Linked DNA regions of Homo sapiens: regions 1 and 3 are each reported to be linked to region 2. Evidence: microRNA targets listed by miRTarBase, many of them from high-throughput screens and not tested one by one. Region 2 holds a microRNA gene; each other region holds the end of a gene's coding sequence. Distances are from middle to middle.

Evidence for each region. The annotated mature microRNA hsa-miR-891a-3p reads AGUGGCACAUGUUUGUUGUGAG and lies in region 2 at 4,265-4,286, opposite strand. An mRNA with a match to its seed (bases 2 to 7 or 8) in the 3' UTR can be bound and repressed. Matches are read on the target gene's strand: a 7mer-m8 pairs with bases 2 to 8, a 7mer-A1 pairs with bases 2 to 7 and ends in A, and an 8mer does both.
Region 1: miRTarBase lists PABIR2 as a target of hsa-miR-891a-3p. Seed matches in the 3' UTR shown: 7mer-A1 at 2,393-2,399.
Region 3: the mRNA of C17orf99 is a reported target of hsa-miR-891a-3p. Seed matches in the 3' UTR shown: 7mer-A1 at 5,723-5,729.

Annotation. Positions count from the first base shown.
Region 1 is chrX:134,766,325-134,773,521 of GRCh38, reverse strand. PABIR2 (PABIR family member 2) reads left to right here. Exons shown (of 10, transcript NM_001387468.1): 10 at 1,239-3,956. The coding sequence ends at 1,383. Among named protein-coding and RNA genes, the nearest start is that of PABIR2, 27 kb to the left of the region's middle.
Region 2 is chrX:146,023,540-146,030,736 of GRCh38, forward strand. MIR891A (microRNA 891a) reads right to left here and starts at 4,333; the gene lies at 4,255-4,333.
Region 3 is chr17:78,164,693-78,171,878 of GRCh38, reverse strand. It overlaps C17orf99 (chromosome 17 open reading frame 99), which reads right to left. Exons shown (of 5, transcript NM_001163075.2): 5 at 5,582-5,990. The coding sequence ends at 5,833. SYNGR2 (synaptogyrin 2) reads right to left here and starts at 3,298. Exons shown (of 4, transcript NM_004710.7): 1 at 3,164-3,298; 2 at 825-1,062; 3 at 230-369; 4 at 1-140. The coding sequence starts at 3,262. RefSeq lists an enhancer at 1-6 and silencers at 2,836-2,995, 3,026-3,635.

The DNA.
Region 1 (7,197 bases), 11 Mb from region 2:
TTTTCTCATTCCTCCGAATTAGGTTAGGTTACCCATGTTATATATTCTCATAGCCCCTTGTATCTTTCCTTTATCACTTTTACTGCAAATTATAATTATATATTTATTAGCATGATTATTTAAATGTCTGTCTCCTGCACAATACTGTAAATTCAATGAGGGCTGGGACCACGTCTGTTTTAAACACCATTGTATTTCTAATATCTAGTGTGCTTCCTGCACTTGGCAGGCACTCAGTAAATATTAGAATAAGTGAATGATTGAATTCAGGGCAAATATAAAGCATAGAGCTTATTACTGGATTGATGGAAACCAAAGCCAGAAAGGCAGCTTGATGCCAGACTGTAAAGGCTCTCAGTTCCTTGCTGAAGTATGGAGCCAGATTCATGAGTCAGGCCAGGTTGATGGTTGGGGAACAGTGAGCCCCCAGGCTGGATAGGGAAGGAATCCCTGGGCTGGGTATAGAGGTTCTTGATGTCCAGATCTGGAGTTTTACTGGAAGGATAGGAACAGGAGCCAGTTGTCAGGATAAAGAGGCAATAGACAACGGGTATTGAGACCACAAGTGTAGATTATTCATTGTAGAAGCTTAACTGGAGAATAACTGAAGGGATCAAAGAAAGGGACTCTTCTAGAAATAGACCTTTGGGTTTTGAAAGCAAGAAGAAAGGAAATAGTGTAAGGAATTATAAATGGCATAGAATTGGAGGGGGAAATCATTTAAAAAATGTGTTTGAATTGAAGGCCCTTTGGGAATGGGGAAGTGATAACTCTAGGGGAGTTGAAAGACTTTGTTTTAGAGTAGAGGAACTATGAGGCAGTGTACTTGATCGAACACCTCTGATAGTCCGAGTATGGTTACCTCAATAAGTAACCATTCCTCTTGCTCCAAGCCTGATGGGAAGGTAAACATAAGAATAGAAATTTCTTGAGCTGAAGTGAAGTGAAGGAACTCCCTCCCGAAAACCATGGCATGTCACGAGGAACGTTTATTGTAGGTTAGGCGGTCTGGTGCCTCTAGGGGGGACAATCAAATGATACAGGACCTCGAAGAGTCTTACTTTGGATTTCTGTGGCTTTATAATGTAGTATATTATGTAGTTCATTGCTGTGGCTTTATGCTTTTTTATTATTTACAAGTGATTTACTGATTTGTGAGCTCTTGAAACTGTGTCATTGCATGTTATGTTTACCCTGATAGTTGCATTTGCTTATAATTCTTTTTGCTTTGTCTTCAGTTCAGATATTTTGGATGGCAGTAGTAGCAGCAGTGGCTTATCCTCAGACCCGCTGGCTAAAGGCAGCGCTACCGCAGAGTCTCCAGTAGCATGCTCCAATTCATGCTCTTCGTTCATCTTGATGGATGATCTCTCACCCAAGTGACTTAACCATTTCTGATTCAACGTTTTAACTGCTGTTTCCTACATAAAATGTTTAGTGGGGAACGCAGAGAACTTTGATCCATAATGAGGATTAAAGTTTTACAGATTTCACACATTCTGATGCTATTATTACTCTTTGGCATCTCTCTTCTCCAAAGTTCAATTTTGTGAGCCTAGTGACCTTACTAGTATCTGGTTTTGCTGATCTCATTTTGGATTTAGTGATTAAATCTCAAATGCTGATTTTTGATTGCTTAGAGGAATCTTTTTTCTTAGTGCCTCAAAAAACACCTATTTTGAGTCTATACATTTAAGAAAGGCACTGATGTGTATTGCCTTTAATGGTCCTTTTCCGCAGCAGTGATATGACAGATTTGATCAGAAATTCTCTTGCTTGAGAGATTTTTTTTTGTCCTCTGTTGACTACATAGTTTCAAATCTCTCTTTATTTCATGATGATATATAAATTGCTTTTAATTATATTAAATTTTTATTTTTCTGCATCAGCTTCAAGTACATTATTTTGTTTCCCTTTCCTGTTTGAGCCGCTTATGCCATTTCTCACAGAGGGGAAGAAATACGTAGTTGCTTTCATTACTCTTATTGCTTCTTTGCTGTTGGGGTGTGTGAAGTGAGCATTGATTTTAGTGCTGAGAATGTAAACGGACTTACAGGATGCTTGGATTAGTCATCACAGGTTCTTATGACTTTGCTACCACAGTTGATATATTTCTCCTCAAACCTGTTGCCCTAAGGAATATATAAAATATTGTTGATATTTCTAGGTGGTGTTATCAAGGAGAAGAAATTCCTGCCTTGACCAGATGTGTGGAGCATCTACAAATGAATGAATAGTTATTTACACACAAACCACTGTGTACAAAAGCGTCCATGGAGCTGTCAGTGTCTCGAGTGGTATTATGAGGCCTCAGGTGCCTTGGGGTACATTGTCATGCTATAAGGGATGTATATCATAAGGTATGGTGGAAGAGGGGCCTTATGTGAATGATTGCCACATACTGTTTCTGTTGCTGCTTTTTTTCCGATTCCTTTTTGTCATTGGATTTGTTTGTTTTGTCATGTGGTGAATGGTGTTTTAGTTATTGTGTTGCTGCCAGAATCAGAATCCAGTTCTTGTTCTTACTGCCTTATAGTTATTGTGTTGCCACCAGAATCAGAATCCAGTTCTTGTTCATACTGCCTTGTAGTGAGGGCAGTTTAATATCTACAAAGAAGCTTTTAGAAGCTGAAAAAGTCAATGTGATTGTGCATTCTGCTTTTAAGAAGCTGTTTCAGCTATGAACTGTGTATGTGCTATAAGTGTGAGGTACCATAAGTTATTTAATTTTTAAAAGAGGAAACTCCTGAGTGAGCTGTTTAAGAAATCTGAGTGTGATCTATTGTTACGTTATTTATAACTAGGTAAAATGTCTGTCGTGATAGATTTCTTTTAACGTTCAGATACTGTGGTTGGGTTGTCTATATTTAATATGCAGATTTGCCTGCTGGAATCATAATCCATTTTTAAGTGAATGTAAGAAATGAAAACTACTGCATTTGTGTCTTTTGAAGGCAAGGATCCTTGGATTTTAAAGGAAGAGTATGTGCTTTGAAGGCACTCAGAGACTAGTAATAGCATATGGTTTGAAGGGAAACCCATTCTCTTTCAATTACAAGAGAGCATCACTTAGCGTGCAGTACTTCTGTTACAGCATCCGATGTGTCCTTTATTTTAAATTGTAACCATAACAGCCATTAATGGCTTTATTTCTTGTATTGCTCTCATCTGGGAAAAGTCTCTACTTCTTCAAACGTAACATAAATCTATTATGAAGCTTGTCCCCTAGTATGCCATTATAAAGAAAAAATTCTTCGATGGTATGCAGTGTATCTATTCTGTTTGTAAAAGATCATGTCAAAATGTTCTGCCTCTATAATGATAATAGATGGTTTTGTCTTTCAGGATATTTATCCACCTACTGTCTTCTTTGCCTTAAAGGGACACTTGGCCATCATTTTTAGGCTCGAACTTAACACTGTTAAGAAATAACTGAAATATGATGGTATTTACATTAATTTTTGAAATTCAATGGTGGGATAGAATTAGGTCAGGAAATGGAAGTTGTTCCAATGGTGTGAGAACTAGGAGACAAGATGATTCACTTTATTATTTAAACCAAGCTTCATTTTTAGTTTTTGTTGTTTAAATGGACTGGAAAGTTAAGTTTTTGCAGGGATTGTTTTGAAATAAAGAGATATGCTAACTCACAGATGAACTTTGTTAAGACCCCTTTATTTTTATATAAAGTCTAATATTTGAAAAGCGATTGTTATAAAGTAAAATTCTCTCTTCCTATTCTAATATATATCATATATTTCAGGCTTCTATTTGAAAACAGGTATAAGAGATGATATGATACAACCCTATAGATAATGTTTTTTGCTTGATTGACTTATATAATCACTGTTTCATGATTACTGCTTTTGGAATAATAGGAAGTTTTGTGAAATGCTGGCCTTGTGTATATCTTAGAATGCAAATTTAATAAAGTGTGTATACATGCATAAAATTTACTAGTGTTTTAAAAGTCTGTCCTTTGTTCTTAATAATAATTATTTTCTGCCCCTATATCCCAGTAGTTTATTCTCTGTGTCTAATTGCAGGTCAAGTTTGAATAAAAGGATATCAGAAACACAAAAGAACGAATAGCTATGTTGAAGTTGGGGCTGTTTGCCAAAACGAAGTGAAACCTCTCCACATAATCAAATTTTCAAGAGTATTTTGTAGAATTTGACAACTTAGAAGGTTCTTGCCAGGGTCATACATCTTTCTTCCTCGTTTTCAATTTGGTTTATCTTGTTAAAATTTTTACATATTGATAAGCCTCTATAAATTATTTTTAGAAAAAGATGAGGGTAGATAAACAGGCAAAAGGGTCCGGGCACAGTGGCTCACGCCTGTAATCCTAGCACTTTGGGAGGCTGAGGCAGGCAGATCACGAAGTCAAGAGATCAAGACCATCCTGGCCAACATGGTGAAACCTCGTCTCTACTAAAAATACAAAAATTAGCTGGACATGGTGGTGCACACCTGTAGTCCTAGCTACTCGGGAGGCTGAGGCAGGAGACTCGCTTGAATCCGGGAGGCGGAGGTTGCTATGAGCCGAGATTGTGCCACTACACTCCAGCCTGGTGACAGAACAAGACTCCATCTTAAAAAAACAAAAAACAGGCAAAAAGCCTTTTATGTGTGATTCAGATTATTAAGTTTATCTTCAGTTTCTTTTTTTTTTTTTTTTTTTTGAGGCAAAGTTTTGCTCTTGTTGACCAGGCTGGAGTGCAGTGGCACAATCTCTGCCCACTGCAACCTCTGCCTCCTGGATTCAAGCATTTCTTCCTGCCTCAACCTCCTGAGTAGCTGGGACTACAGGCGCCCGCCACCATGCTTGGCTAATTTTTGTATTTTTTAGTAGAGATGGAGTTTCATCATGTTGGCCAGGCTGGTCTCAAACTTCTGACCTCAGGTGATCTACCTGCCTCAGCCTCCCAAAGTGCTGGGATTACAGGCGTGAGCTACCTCGCCTGGCCCTATCTTCAGTTTTTAAGAAATAACATGAGCTGCTTTATTTTAAAATACATTTTGGGCTGGGCATGGTGGCTCACGCCTGTAATCCCAGCACTTTGGGAGGCCAAGGCGGGTGGATTGCTTGAAGCCAGGAGTTTGAGACCGGCCTGGGCAACATGGCAAAACCCTGTTTCTACTAAAATTACAAAAATTAACTGGATGTGGTGGCGTGCGCCTGTAATCCCAGCTACTTGGGAGGCTGACGCTTGAACCTGGGAGGCAGAGGTTGCAGTGAGCTGAGATTGCACCACTGCACTCTAGCCTGGGTGACAGAGCGAGACTGTTTAAAAAAAAAAAAACAAAAAAAAACCTTTACATTTTGAAATTTGAAATAATTTCAAACTTACAAAAAAGTTGTAAGAGTAGCTCAAATAACTCCTATATATCCTTCACCCAGGTTCCTTAATTGTTAACATTTAACCACATTTGCTTTGTCTATCTGTCTCTCCTATATATGCACTATCATTCTGTCTCTCCCTGTGTCTCTCTGTGTGGGGGGGATGTATATACATATATATATATATGCACGTATACATTTTTTTCCTGAATCATATGATGCCCCATTGCCCTTACATGCTTCAGCGTAAATTTCTTAAAGATATTCTACATAACCACATTACAACTATCAAAATCAGAAAATTAACTGACACAAAACTGCCATCTATTAGCTGAGCATAGTGGCTCCCAGCATTTTGGGAGGCTGAGGCGAGAGGATCACTTAAGTCCAGGAGTTTGAGACCAGCCTGGGCAACATAGCAAGACCCTGGTATCTATATTTTTTTTAAATAAAAAGATTTTTTTAAACTGCCTCTGATCTACAGACCCATTCAGTTTTTGCCTATAGTTGTGATAATGCCGTTTTTGGCAAAAGGGAAAAAATCTTTTTTTTTTCTTCTGGAGGAGGAGACTTTCTTATCTTAGTAACTGACACCCTCACCCACCCAGCTACTCAAACCAAGAACCCAGGAGTTAACCTTGACTTGTTGCTTACTTTCATTCCTTGCATATAATTTTTCAGCATGACTTTTCATACTGTTTCTGAGATATATCTTCTTGCCCTTGTCAAAGAGGAACAATACCAGACATAGTTAGCAACACAGATTTTATTCAGACTACTTCAATAGGGGAGAGACCCCTATTTCTTCTAGAGGAGGCACATGGTGTTACTTTGTCCTGTTACTAGTGATGATAACTTTGATCCCTTGGATAAGGTGGTGTCTACTGTCTTTTTCCCATTGAAATTAAAGTATTTTGTGTGGAGGTACTTTGAGACTATAAATATCCTGTTTACTCATTAAACTTTGACCCCCTAGTTTTAGCATTCATTGATCTTTCTTGTCTGATGGTATTATGATGGCTGCCTGATAGTATCATGATGGCTACCTAATGCTGGCTCTAATTCCATCATTAATTTATTAGTTGACATTCTACTGTAAAGGAGAACACACTCTCCTCCACCACTTTGCATCAGTGTGGACTCATGGACTCCTGTTTTAGTTAGTTTTACTTCATTACCATGATTGTTTTGATATTCAAGTTGCCTCAGATTTGGAAAATGAGGGCCCCTCCAACTTGTCCCTGTGTCCTTTGGACAAATCCCTATCAGTTTCTGAGCAGTTTTTTACTTTTCTGGCTCAAGATGTCCCAGATTCATACTCTGCTTGCCCCAGCCCCTGGGATCAGCCATTTCTCTGAGGAGCCCCTTGATTCCTTTTAATAGAGAACAATGTTTAAAAACCAAGGTGGGGAACTAGGTATATCATCGCTATTGGGGCATCATTGTTTAAAGGCCTCAGATCACAGAGAAAAACACATGTATGTGTATATATACACCATGTAAATGTATATACACATCTATATTTGTTTATTAAATATAATGAGTTCAAACTATACCTCTGATTCCAATTCAGTACCACAGGGTTCATTCCAGTGTTTATCTCAGTGTAATTACTCCTTTCTCCTATGTGTAACCAATTTCCTACCCTGCCAGCTGGCTACCCGGCCTGCCTCCTCAGCCCCATCCATCTCCTTGGCTCTGACCCTGATGGCCTGCCAGTCCTGGCTGCCTGGATGGAAGGAAGGAAAGAGGATCTAAGTCCTCAAGTTTTAAATATCCCTGGTTCACACCCACCCCAACCACCACAAGCTCCTTATCTTCTGTGCTTGACTGTTCACAGCTTGGGAATTTCT
Region 2 (7,197 bases):
AAGAATCTTAAGAGCTGCGAGGCAAAAGCATCAGGTAACCTATATAGTAGGAAAACCTATCAGATTAACAGCAGATTTCTCAGCAGAAACCTTACAAGCCAGAAGAGATTGATATCCTATCTTTAGCCTTTTCAAACAAAATAATTATCAGCCAAGGATTTTGTATCCCACAAAATTAAGCTTCATAAATGAAGGAGAGATAAAATTTTTCAGACAAATGCTGAAGAGAATACACCACTACCAAGCCAGCACTACAAGAAATGCTAAAAGGAGTTCTAGATCTTCTAACAAAACCTTGAAATACACCAAAATAGAATCTCCTTATAGCATAAATTTCTAAGGGACTATAAAACATTAACACAATGAAAGAAAAGGTATTCAAGCAACAACTATTCAGGAAAATATATTCAATATTCAAATGTATTAATTTATTTCATTCTTCTTTCTTAAATGATACCTTCCTAGTCTTTTGTTTTGTTTTTTCTTTTTTTTTTTTTTTTGAGACAGAGTTTCACTTACATTGCCCAGGCTGGAGTGCAATGGCAGGATCTCGGCTCACTGCAACCTCCGCTTCCCAGGTTCAAGCAATTCTTCTTCCTCAGCTGCTGAGTAGCTGGGATTACAGGCTCCTGCCACCATGTCCAGCTAATTTTTGTATTTTTAGTAGAGACAGCGTTTCACCATGTAGGCCAGGCTGGTCTTTAACTCCTGACCTCAGGTGATTCGCCCCCCTCAGCCTCCCAAAGTTTTGAGATTACAGGCGTAAGCCACCACGCCCTGCCTGAAGTAAACATCTTGTCTCTAAAAGGCAAATGTAGACAAATGGGTGAGGCCTATTTCCAACATTTAGCATGCTCTCTGATTCACTATCAAAACGGAATGTGGAGTTTGCTTTTAGTTTTGCAATGCCTCATGCACGTAGTTAATATCAAACACCCAAAGAACTGAAGAAAATTAATCCGAAATGATTACTGTTAACTAGCTTTAGTAAGTTGGTTAGACAAGACATATACAAAAACCAAAAGCTTCCCTTAGTACCAGCAATCATTATATTAAAACATATTTGGAAACTACTGATTTTGATAATGGGGAAAGGCAATTCATTCCAACATTACTGCTTCGGACAACTAAGCAAGCTAAACAAAATATATTTTACAGCTCCTCTTGAAAGTCTCAAACACCTTCCTGTAAGTGAGGAAATGCCTGGCCAAAATCTAGGAGACAAGAACCAAGAAACGTAAGCTCTGTCTCATAAGTGGTTTGCACAGATGACATTTGCTAAATGCCTGACCCCAATCCAGTTCTCCTGGCCATAACTGGAACCTTACTCTCACTCCCACCTGAAATTATCAATATCCAGGCGATCATTCACCTATTATCCCGCTACTAAGCTTGACACAAATGTAGCAAAGTTTCATATCCTTTCTTCATCAAAGCAAATATAATTGTAGATACAGAGCAGAGAAGAAATATGTCCATTTTATCGGACTGTTAAAGGTCTAGAAAAGCTTTGAAGGCAAACATCTGGAAAACGATTCCTATTTTGACCCAGTTCTGCCAGTATTTATTTCTTCCACTGGCCCTAGGGGATTTAACTCACAAAGATGATGATAGGCTGTTTACCATGCAATGAGAAGCACTAAACACACCAGTTGGCATGGAGTCAGAGACTACTATATATCTCATTATATTTCATTGCCTTATTCCGTAAAAATAGAATTTCATTAAAAAAAGTAAATAGAAGTAAAAGGACAAGAGCTAAAACAAGAACTTACATTTCTGAAATGCCCACTTACACCACATCAATGTACTTAGGAATTTTCTGTGAATCTTCTCATACGTTCTCACAACAAACACATGATGATGAATCCACTACACACTCATTGACATGGATTTGTCATGAAGATTCGTGAGAACACGTGTGAAAATTCACTTGGATCCTCAGATATAACAATGCAGCAGATATTATGTTTCATGTAACATAAAGGGCATATTTAAAGAAGAAAAATGACCCATGAAATTTCCTATTTACAACCTACTTAACCATCTATGAGATAAGTTTGTCAGGAATTCTATTACCTATAATTCACCATCACTATCAACTATCTTTCTTTACAACAAATTGTCCCAAAATCTTTATAATTCTGATGAATGAGACAGCAATCCAGAAACAGCTGGCAGCAGGTACTTTCAGATTTATGATGGGAAGGCAGAGTTCTCCTAAGTGACTTGCTTGGAACTTACTGACTGTGATGATGTGGAATGAGAATTTCTTTAATACAGCAATGCATTAAAAATGGAGATATCACTGTCTATCTAGAGTCATTAAAACATTAAAACCATTAGATTTGTAAGGGTGGGAGAGAACAAAGAGACACTACACAAAGTACTTACTTCACAAACCATCAGTATTAACTATCAATAAATAACGGAAAAACAAGAATCTTAGCAAAAAGAAAGACGAATCTGTAGAAGTGCCCAACTGTATACTCAGATCTCCGAAACATACAAACATTTCCAAGAGGAGACTTCAGGATGGCTAACAACTTAAAGCCCTTACCAGATGAATTAGGTGGAGCAATGCTTTACTGAAAACTATTTAAAAATCCTATAGGTGTAAACATCTCACTAGAATGGTCTCAAAAATAATGAACGATATCAGAGGTAAGATGGTAATGAATAGGTAATATGTAAAAATTATGAGCTTTTTGTACATAGGCCTCTACATGTCTAAGGATTTCCAGGCTCTTACCATTTGGTAATCGGAGATTACTGTTTCCAGATCAGATGAAGGAATAGTGACCAAATTAATCTGCTGTCTAAAACAAAGAAAAACCAGATATATACAGAAAAACATGTCTTTCAGACACTGTAGAGTGATCTGTGAGAGAGGGGACACATTAGAACAGTCCGTCCATTCTCCTGCCAACTTCTCAGAGAGAGAATATTGACTCCAGTGCAAAGAATGGGAACCCAGGCAAAGCCTGGCAATTTTCAATATTAACAGATTAAAATGGAAAAAAAGAGATCATTTCAATTGATGCGGAGAAATATGTGACTAAATCTAACATCCATATCTAAAAATAATAACAGCAAATCAGGCATAGAATCGAGTATATCCTCAATTGGTTGAAGGGCTTCTATGAAAACGCACAGCTAACGGAAGACTTAATTGTTAACATTTTTATGTTTGACTCCTAAGATCAGGAACCAGGTGAGGATGTCCCATTCACCATTTATATGCAACAATTATGCCAAATTAAAGTAAATGATCAGGTAAGGACATAATATTTTATAATTTGCAATCATGGATGAATAAAATCAAGTCTGTCATCTTCAACCATTAACTTCCCCTTACCTGTGTTTGCAGTGGCGTCAACGCTTGCACTGCAAATAAATTATCTCTATGGGCATAGATATCCACAGGGTATTCTAGAAAAATATGTAAATTGAATCATAAAGCAGAATACATTACAATATGTATATGAAAAACCACCAATGAAATCCTATGAGTGATAACTGATGATACCCTTCTTAGTACTAATATAATAGCAGTGTTACTAGGACTGATACCATTAGTTATAGTACTAGTACTGCTTGCAGTAGTACTAACAGGACAATTTGCTTAATGACTACATGCCTGGCAGATATGTACTTCAGATTTTCATATGCATTTCCACATTCCATAACTACAACAAATTGTTCCCAAAGAAACGATATCCGAAAGTTTTGATTTGTCAGTGATTGAGGACATGTATATAACGTACATTTGCAAATGGAAAAAGACACACAGAAATGCAGAGATAATCACAGTAATCACAGATAACCATATAATCACAGAACAGTTTTGATTTGTCATAGCAATTGAGGACATGTGTAGAACATACATTTGCAAATGGAAAAAACCAGAAATGCAGAGATAATCACAGTAATCACAGCTAATCATGTGATCATAGAACAACATTAAGACTGCTACGCAGCGTTAACCTCACAGAAACCATCCACATTAACCTCAGAAAAACAGAAAATAAGAAGAAATTCATCTTGCTGCTACCTGTCCTCTGATCTCTGACCTAATAAAAGGTGTTTATTGAACATGCTGTCATTTTTACCAAAGTACTAGTAATACAGTCTCTACCGCTATGATTACTCTACTACCAGTGTCACTACAAGGAGGTGAAGGAGAAGCAGCAGTAGCTACATAACTGATGACTTACATGGTTTGCAGTGTCCATGAGGCCTGTAGAGATTATCTCTTTTGACCCTCACAACAAACATGTGCCACTGAGTATTTTACTGAATCAGTGGCTCAGGTTCGTTGCAAGGATTAAGGAGACAACATTTGTAGACTCTTTGGGAACCTAGAAAAAAACAAAGAAGCTACGTAATTATAATATGACTATGCAACATTGAATACCTAAAATAAATGACATACTAATTTACTATTCACAACCTGTGTAACTATCAGCATGTATATTTTCTTTCCCATTTGTATTAGTGATAATTTCCTGGTTCTGCAGTTGGAGGATGAAAATCTTGAAGGGGCTGGTAGTAAAGCTCTACCAATCCATTGTAAGAATTCCGACTTCCCAAAATTTGCAAATCACTGATTATGATACTGAATGAGGCTATCTATACCGAATGCAATTCTACAAATATAGACAATGATTCTCAACCCAGAAATACGTAAAATGTGACAACTACAAGATAAGTTTATACTGGGAAGAAAAAAAGACAGATTAAAAAGAATGACAACCTTCTCCAAACAACCAGCGATAATTGAGTGAAGACTCGTTGAAAAGCTAAATTTCTCTAAAAATATACATATGTATACATATATTCACAGATATCCATGCATACATAAGATAATGTCCCTGAAAAGCACACACACAAAAAATTGAAGGGATTATGTAATTCAGGCTTTATTCACAATAATAATGAGCAAGCCCTATATTGTTCATTTCTCTCAAATTCATTGCCTGTCCATATCTAACTCTATTTTTTTAAAGAATTTTGATAAAATTCTTCTACTGCTTATTGCCTAATGAAGTTCAAAGATATTAATAAAAAGATATATGAAGGAAAAATGTGGAGAATCTACCACAGGAGTTCCTAAATGGTATTCTTAACAGTTCTATAATAATAATCAACACTAGGTAATTGCCGTTTACAAATTCAAACTTTCCAAGAAAACCAAGTTGGTGTCTGATATGACACGTTAAATGAAGCAAATGGCTGTGAAACTTATGTTGAGCTGACAGTTCATACAAATTCATGATGTGATAGGCCAGTTGTACAATTAGAAGTAACTCTTGGTGACTTAACAACTCTGTTTATGCAGGATATTAATTTATTGAATATTTAATTGAGTATACAAAGGGAGGTGGTTATCTTTCTGGAATCATCTGAAAAAATGATGAGAACTGGTTGGAAATGGGGCAAGAATTAAAGACAAAAAATGACAAAATTATCTTTCCTGTTTTCCAGCCACAATCATACATCAAAAAAAGAATGTATTCCAAACAAAAATAAATCAAAAATTGCTAGGACAAATAAAGTTTTCACAGATATAGACACAAAACTATTTAGTTTCCTTTAGTAGACATAACATAGGTTTGCCTGGATAAGTATTTTTCATAATTTTAAATGACTAGGGGCCAGGCATGGTAGCTCACAGCTGTAATCCTAGCATTTTGGGCATCCAAGGAAGATGCATCATCTGAGCACAGGAGTTCACGACCAATATGGGGAAACCCCATCTCTACTAAACACACAAAAATTAGCTGGGTGTAGTTGCCGGTGCCATTAATCCCAGCTACTTGGGAGGCAGAGGCAGGAGAATCCCTTGAATCTGGGAGGTGGGGGCTGCAGTGAGCCGAGATCCCCCCATTGCACTCCAGCCTGGGAGATGAGGGTAAAACTCAAAAAAAAAAAAAAAAAGCTAGGATGGTAACATTTAAGTAAGAAGAACCTGCCCAGGTTCCCAATCAAGCCTGTTTATGCAAATGAAGTACTGAAACTTAAAACTCAGTTCTGATTGGTTGATACACCAGACCCTGGATTGGTGGACGTGAGTGACCTTTAATTGGTTGGTTTAGGGGAGTCCTGAAAGTCCCAATGTTAAATAGTGTAGGTTTTCAGGGAACTCAGAGTGCCTCTGTGACTCCTAGTTAGCAAATGGCCACTTTGCTTTATTTGAAATTTAGGCCTAGTGACCCACTCAGGATCCATCTTGAAGAATTAGCTCAAACATGGCAGCACACAGCACTTCCTTTCATCACAGCACCAGCAAACTGCTCTGGGTCCATCTAGTCCCACACATGGATCCCAGTGGCAGGGCACTAGCCAACTGCACTAGAGCCATTTACTTCAAATAAATGATGATTTACTTATGAGGCACTCAGGTACCTCTTAAATTTGAACAAAAGTCTCTTGGGTTAAGTTGCTTTTGGTTTCCTGCTAGAGTGAGTTTAAAGTCTCAAGAATCAGGCCAACACTATCCTGGTAGGGGTCTCTTACAGACATCTGTTAAAAGAGGATAAAACAATTTTACAGAGGAGGCAACTGCTTCCAAATATGAGGAAGATAAATACTTTTAGGGTAGAATGCAGAAAAATTCTATACCTGGGGGAAGCCAGCTAAAAATACATGGATATTGGAAAGTTAACCCAGTAAGGCCAGCCAGGAGGCTTCCTGAAGGTGTCCCTTTCAGAGATTTGATTAATTTGATACCTTAAATGTTCCCAATTCACCCTGGCTGGAATATTTCTTCAGGCACAGCCGCAAGTGTTAGCAACAGCACAAACACCACCCTGTGCAGTGAGGCGATAATCTAAAGCAATGTGGTCATCTAGGACCATGAAAGCAAGGGAGTCTAGGGACTTCTGTTGTGCCCTAGTGGCTTGGGCAGTGGAATGAGCAATTTTGTTAACAGTGCAAGAAAAATTTTTGACCATATATTCACTCCAAGCAGAACCTAGTCCAAACCAGGACCCCAGAAACCTTCCTAATCTAGCTTATTCACTAGAGTTAATTCCTCTGGGTACATCACCTCCTTCAAGAGTGTCCCAAACTGTAATGTAAAGGGTTCACAATTGGGGTTGGATTGTGGCCTAAGACTCTCATATAGCTCTTGGAAAGCAGGCTGGGTAGCATTGGTGAGGCTAACAGAATAGATCAAAATTTGGGTAAAAGCTG
Region 3 (7,186 bases), not on the chromosome of region 2:
GGCTGTTGGTAGTTGTCCACAGATGCACCTGGGTAGGAGGCGTAGGCAGTGTTGGGGTCCGGAGTGGGGTCAACGTAATTCTGGATGAAGTCGTCCACGCCAGCCTTGTAGCGCTGGTAGGCCAGGGAGGCCAGCACACCCTGCAGGGGGAGCACAGCAGGGTACAGGTGGGTGGGGGACCCCACCCTCCACCACCCTTGACCCAAGAACCGGCCCCTGGCCATCCTACCCAGGAGAAGATGGAAAAGAAGCTGAAGGTGATGGCTGCCCTCACAGAGTCGGCCCCCACCAGCACGTCCTTCGGGTTGGTGACTGCCCACTGGTTGGTGAGGAAGCAGAAACCAACAAACCACAGGAAGGTCCAGAGAGCTGGGGGAGGACGGGTGAAGCGTCAGTTCCATGGAAAGGGAGGGGCTTTCCAGGACTCTGGGAGGGGACGCGGGCAGGTAGGGCAGGGACCTCCCGGGGGAGCCTCCACACTATGGAGGGGAGGACTTGGAAGCCGGGCCGGGAGCCACCTCCAAAGTCCCCCACACTCGGGCCTTGGCAGGGTGGGCCACAGCAGACAGCCTAGGGGACAAAAGGGGCAGAGGCAAAGCCCATCTGCTCGGGTGTGCTGCAGGTCCACTCAGCTTCTAGCTACCCCAGGCAGGGCTGGTGCCATTCAAGCACGGAAAAACACTAGCTGAAAACCCTTTCCTAAAAATGCCCTGGAGGAGTGAGCTGCTCCCTGCCCCTCCCAGAGAGGCCGAGACCCTCCCAGCTGCGGAACCCTAGAGTTAATGCCTCCCCCAAGATCAAATGGAGGTGCCACAGGCAGATACCTGAGAAGAGCAGGTCACCAATGACCAGGTACTTGCGGTCAGTGGCGTTGCTGATCTGGGGGAAATACGCGTCGACCACCAAGAAGAAGGCCGAGGCCAGGAAGGCCAGCACCCCGATGGCACTGCCATAGCGGCAGGCATCCTCGTTGCGGTTGAACACGCAGTACATCTGCTTAGACTCGTGGGCATTGCTGTAGCCCTCACCATAGATGCAGGAGAACACGATCAAGGCGAAGACCTGCCGGGAGGGGAGGACCTGGTAGGGCTGGTGGCCGCCTGAGGGGCACACACAGCGGGGACCCTGATGGGGTGTACAGATGCTGGCCTCTCCCACTACTGCTGTCCCCTTTTGGGTTTTTGTTGTTGTTTGAGATGGAGTCTTGCTCTTGTTGCCCAGGCTGGAGTGCAATAGTGCGATCTCGGCTCACTGCATCCTCTGCCTCCTGGGTTCAAGCAATTCTGCCTCAGCCTCCCTAGTAGCTGGGATTACAGGTGCCCTCCACCACACCCGTATTTTTAGTAGAGATAGGGTTTCACCATGTTGGCCAGGCTGGTCTGGAACTCCTGACCTCAGGTGATCCACCCTCCTCGGCCTCCCAAAGTGCTGGGATTACAGGCATGAGCCACCTCGCCCAGCCTGCTGTCCCCTTTTGGAGGCTGACATCTTAGCCCCTCCAAACTTGTGGAGGTGAGCTGATGAGCAAAGTGCTTCCTGATGCACCCCAGGATGAGAATCTGCAGGCACCAGGGGGCCTGCCCCTGGGAATCCTGGACCGGGGAGGGGTGGGGAATGGGCAGGGACCTCCTAGGCAGGGGCTGCTCCTGCCCCATCGGCCTGCTGCAGGAATCATTCTGCTTAGGTACCTGATGGATGAAGGGCAGTCCTTCCATCCCCAGCCCAACCTCACCTTGAAAGAGGTTTAACCAAGACAGGCCAAGTCACAAAGACTACCCATCCCCCGTCACCTTCAGCCCAAGTCACTTCTACAGCACCCAGCCTCTGCCTGAACACCTTGGTGAAGGTGGACAGGCCCTCTTGGGAAGGCCATGCTGGCGCCCCTGTGTCTTCACCTCCTGGAACCCCTGGAACCCTCCCTGGTTCAGCCTGGCCAGCTGTCTCCACACAAGGACTTGCAGCCTCTGTGGCATCCTGGTCCCTCCCAGTCTGTCTCCCACCCCACAGAGGGCCCTGCATGCACAGGGCACTACAAGGGGACTAACTCAGGCCTGTGGATACAGCTCTGAACTCAGACACCTGGAGGACCCAGGGTGGATGTAGGGGAGCTCCAGCCCCTTGGGAAGAGCCCCATACCACCTCCCTAAACTTGAAGGCCACCACCCACGCCTGCTCCACCTCAGCAGGTGTGGGACAGGTCTGTGAGCATCAGGATCCCTCTGGGATGGCCCCAGGACTCTCCCCTGCCAGTCCTGCCCTGTTGTCCCAGGGAGCTCTCCATAGGGCTCTGGAGCTGGCAGTCACAGGCCCCGCCCCCAGATGGAGATGAAGCCGGATCTCCGGGATGATGGGAGCAGGGTGCCCATCCAGGACTCCTGGCACTGCCATCCCGACCCACTGGGCACCTGATTCTTGGACACAGCCCAGGACAGAGGCGATCAGATCCCACAGCCTGGCTGGGAGCTGGTGTGGGCGCCCTGGAGGACCTCAGAAGCTCCAGGCCCAGGCATGGTCTGGGCACAGCAGGCCCACCTCTGCCTGCCCCCTCATGCCACCCCCTCCAGCTTTCAGGGCTGGCTGTCCAAGAACAGGCCCCCTCCCCGCCACACACACACACACACAAAACCTGGTTTTGGAGGTATTGCCCACCTTACAGGGAGGGGGTACATCTTGGGGTCCCTCAACTTCGGGTGGGAAGGCGGACCCGTGGCCTGCCCCGAGTGGGAAGGACACCCTGTTTCCGGGCGTTGGGTCGCCCCCCGCCCCCTCCCTTACCCCACGTGGCTTCGGAAAACCCCGTCCCGGTGAACTCCCCAATCTGGGAGTCGCGGCGTGCGGGCCACCTGTCCGGGAGCCGCCCCCAAACTCCTCCCACTGCCAGCGAGGCAGGGGCCCGCTCCCTGCGGAGATCCGGACACCCCGCGTCGGGGCGCGAGGCTGGGGGTGGGGTGGGTGGCGGGACCCGGGACCGGGAGGGGACAGCGGGACAGACTGTGGAGGGCGGGAAGGCGGGGCCCGGGACGCTGGACGCCGGCCCCGCTCGCCGCCAGGCCCCGGACGCGGCCGCCGCCACCTGTCGCGCTCGTGGGCTAGGGGCCCCGCCGGGCCTGGCGACGGAGAGGGGGTCCCCAGGGTGCCCTCGGCCCGCCCTCCCCGGGCTCACCAAGCACACGGCGCGCGCCACCACCTGCGGCTGCGTCAGGAAGCGCCGCAGGTCGAAGGAGCCGCCCGCCTTGGCCGCGCCGTAGGCCCCGCTCTCCATGTCGCCGTCGCCGCCGCTGCCGCCGCCGCGGAACGCAGAGGAACCTGCCCGGCGCCCCGCCCGACTCCACCCGCCGGGGGCGTGGCCAGGCGCCGCTAGGGACCGAGGGCAAAGTGCGGCCCTCGCGAGCGGCGGGCGAGCCGCGGGACTGCGCTTCTAGAGGCGGGGAGGGGCTGTGGCCGCGGAGCACCCGGGTCCACCCCACCTCGGGGTTGAGGGGCTAGTCTCCGGGCCACGCCGGCCGCAGCACGGACCAGAAAGGGTCAGAGAGTCCCCCGGGAAGACGGACGAACTGAGGACCGCTCACCCTCTTTGCCCCTGCCCTCCCACCGCCTCCTCTAGGAAGCCCACCACCTACCAAGAACCCACCCAGGCTCATAAGCAACCCCTCCCCCATCCCACTGAAAAACCCAGGCCACACCCTGGAGCCCCTCCCTGCCTGGCCTGCCACTCTTTCCTCCTCTCTGGGGCTAAGCCTGGGGTAGGGTCAAAGACCCCCTCCCCATTCCTCCTGGTCTGGGCAGAGCCCCAAGGCTGTGAAGGGCAGTGTGGCGTCACACTTAAGATGGTGTGCAAGGCCGGGAGCGGTGGCTCACACCTGTAATCCCAGCACTTTGGGAGGCCGAGGCGGTTGGATCACCTGAGGTCAGGAGTTCGAGACCAGCCTGACCAACATGGAGAAACCCCGTCTCTACTAAAAATACAAAAATTAGCCTGGTGTGGTGGTGCATGCCTGTAATCCCAGCTACTCGGGAGGCTGAGGCAGGAGAATCGCTTGAACCTGGGAGGTGGAGGTTGCGGTGAGCCGAGATTGTGCCATTGCACTCCAGCCTGGGCAACAAGAGCAAAACTCTGTGTCAAAAAAAAAAAAAAAAAAAAAAAAAAAGATGGTGTGCAAGGCCGGGCGCAGTGGCTCACACCTGTAATCCCAGCACTTTGGGAGGCCGAGGCGGTTGGATCACCTGAGGTCAGGAGTTTGAGACCAGCCTGGCCAACATGGTGAAACCCCGTCTCTACTAAAAATACAACAACAACAAAAAAATTAGCTGGGCGTTGTGGTAAGCGCCTGTAATCCCAGCTACTTGGGAGGCTGAGGCAGGATAATTGCTTGAAACCGGTAGGCAGAGGTGGCCGTGTGCTGAGATCGAGCCACTACACCCCAGCCTGGGCAACAGAGCAAGAGTCCATCTCAAAACAAACAAAACAAACAAACAAACAAACAAACAAACAAAACCAAAAACGAAAGTTAGCGAGGCGTGGTGGCAGCTACTAGCAGTCCCAGCTATTCCAGAGGCTGAGGTGGGAGAATTGTCTGAGCCCAGGAGGCGGAGTTTGCAGTGAACCAAGATCACGCCTTTGCACCCCAGCCTGGGTGACAGAGTAAGACCACATATCGGCCGGGCGTGGTGGCTCACGCCTGTAATTCCAGCACTTTGGGAGGCTGAAGCAGGCGGATCACGAGGTCAGGAGATCGAGAACACCCTGGCCAACATGGTGAAACCCCGTCTCCACTAAAAATACAAAAATTAGCTGGGCATGGTGGCGCGTGCCTGTAGTCCCAGCTACTTGGCAGGCTGAGGCAGGAGAATCGCTTGAACCCGGGAGGCGGAGGTTGCAGTGAGCCGAGATTGCACCATTGCGACAGAGCGAGACTCCATCTCAAAAAAAAAAAAAAAGAAAAGACCACATATAAAAAAATATATATATGGCATGCAAACAGAAATGAAGTTTTCAGGGCGACAGGCAGATGGCAAAGTTTAATCCAGTTCCAGTTCAGCCCCCTCTCGCCTCCGTCCCTCTCTACCTCCATCCCAAGAAAAACCGGTACAGAGGGTCTGGTGCAGGGTAGGCTGGGGCAGGCTCTGTGTGTGTTGGAGTGGGGAGCGGAGGTTGTACAGACAGAGGTGTGGGATCACAGGCTGACTGAACCCGGAAGAATTCCAGACCCCCCTTTGCTAGTTGCAGGTGCAGATTAACAACAGCAGGTGTGCCAGGTGGGGCTCACAGTCAACCCAGGTGAGCTGGACCACGTGAGAGTTGAACCATAGGACTGGGCCACCAGGAGGTGGGGTGCCTCTCCAGGGAAGAGGGGAGCAGGTGGGGGGGAGGGGCTGGGCCTTTTCGCAGTGTGCCCCCCTCCCTCTCCCTACACCCAGAGAGATGTGACAGCACCTGAGAGGCGAGGACAGGGCCACACAGACCCCCTTATTTCTGTGACCCTCCTGAAGCCCTCACACCAACAGTGTCTGTGTTTGCTGAAGGCCACCAGCACTCCAAGAATCCCAGCTGGCAGGCTTTTTTCTTTTTTTTAAATAAATGTTTTTGTGTATATTTAAGGTAGACAACCTGATATGATGGGATTCATATAGATAATATAGATAGCACAAAGGTTCCTATAGCGAAGCAAGTTAACATATCCACCATCTCTCATAGTTACCCTTTTTTTTTTTTTTTTTTTTTTGTGGCAAGAGCAGCTAAAACACACTCATTTTGCATGAACTCCAAATACGAACAGTGCACGCTGATGGCCTGCAGTCCTCTGCCGTGCTTGGCTCTCTGGACGGTTCATTCTACATGGCTGCTGCTTTGCGTCCTCTGACCTCCCCATTCCCTATCCTGAACCCCCCAAACTCCTCTTCACTCAGACGGCGGGTGCTCCTGTAGAGCGGCAAGGCAAGGATGGGGCTCTCCAGGGGACCCTGCCAGTCCTCCATCTTCTGGTCACCACCTTGACAAAGCAGTGGAGACTCAAGTCAGGCAGGCTCACCTCCCAGCCATCCCCTCCCGAGGCGTCTGAGAGTGTTCGTTTGTTTTGAGACGGAGTTTTGCTCTTTTTGTCCAGGCTGGAGTGCAATGGCACGATCTCGGCTCACTGCAACCTCCACCTCCTGGGTTCAAGTGATTCTCCTGCCTCAGTCTCCCGAGTAGCTGGGACTACAGGTGCGCACCACCACGCCCGGCTAATTTTGTATTTTTAGTAGAGACGGGGTTTCTTCATGTTGGCCAGGCTGGTCTCGAACTCCTGACCTCAGGTGATTCGCCTGCCTCAGCCTCCCAAAGTGCTGAGATTCCAGGCATGAGCCACTGTGCCCGGCCTGCCTCTGGGAGTTTTATGGTGCCAAGCACATCAGTGCCCCAGCAGAAGAGACATGAGGCTTACTCACCCCACTAAATGAAGGCTGTACCCCATTTTACAGAAGGAAAAACTGAGGCTCGGCGAGGTGACATGGCTCACCCACGAGTCTGGCTTCTGGAAAGAACAGACTTGGTAGAAGTGAGATGGGAAAGTGCCAAGGACAGACTCCTGGTAGAGCCACGTAAGGGCCTGGGCCACGGGCAGAGGATGAGAACCAGGACACGGCAGTGTCTCCCAAACAAAGAGAGATGAGTTCACAGAGGCAGGGCTGGCCACCACCAAAGCCAGACAGGCAGAGCACACAGGCCTGTGGTGCCTGCACTCAGACACTACAAAGGCCTTGGTCACTTTACATGTTAGTAAAGCCATGGCCTTGGAGAGGGGACCCTGGGAGGCTGGGCCCCAGGCTCTTGCCACCACCTCGGAAAGACTGCCCAAGGTGGTTCTCACAGAAGGCAGGAGCTCCTGGTCCACCTTGGTCTCCTGGAGGCATCATCCCTGCAATCCCTGCTCAGACCCCATAAAGAACTTAGGAGACTGCCCTCCCAGAGGCCAGCAGACTGTGTTACAGGGCACCTGGGAGCACTGGTCAGGGTCCGATAACGCCTTGAATGTGTAAGCCTCAGTAGGCACATGGCACACAGTAGGTCCTCATAAACACCTTCGAGTCATGCGTAAGCGGTGATGGCCGCTCTTTGCCCTGGCCACAGCCCTGCCCTGCAAGCCCCACCACCTGAGCTCTGCAGCCAGGGCCCGGTTGGACCTCTCAGGCCATCAGCAGCTCTCCC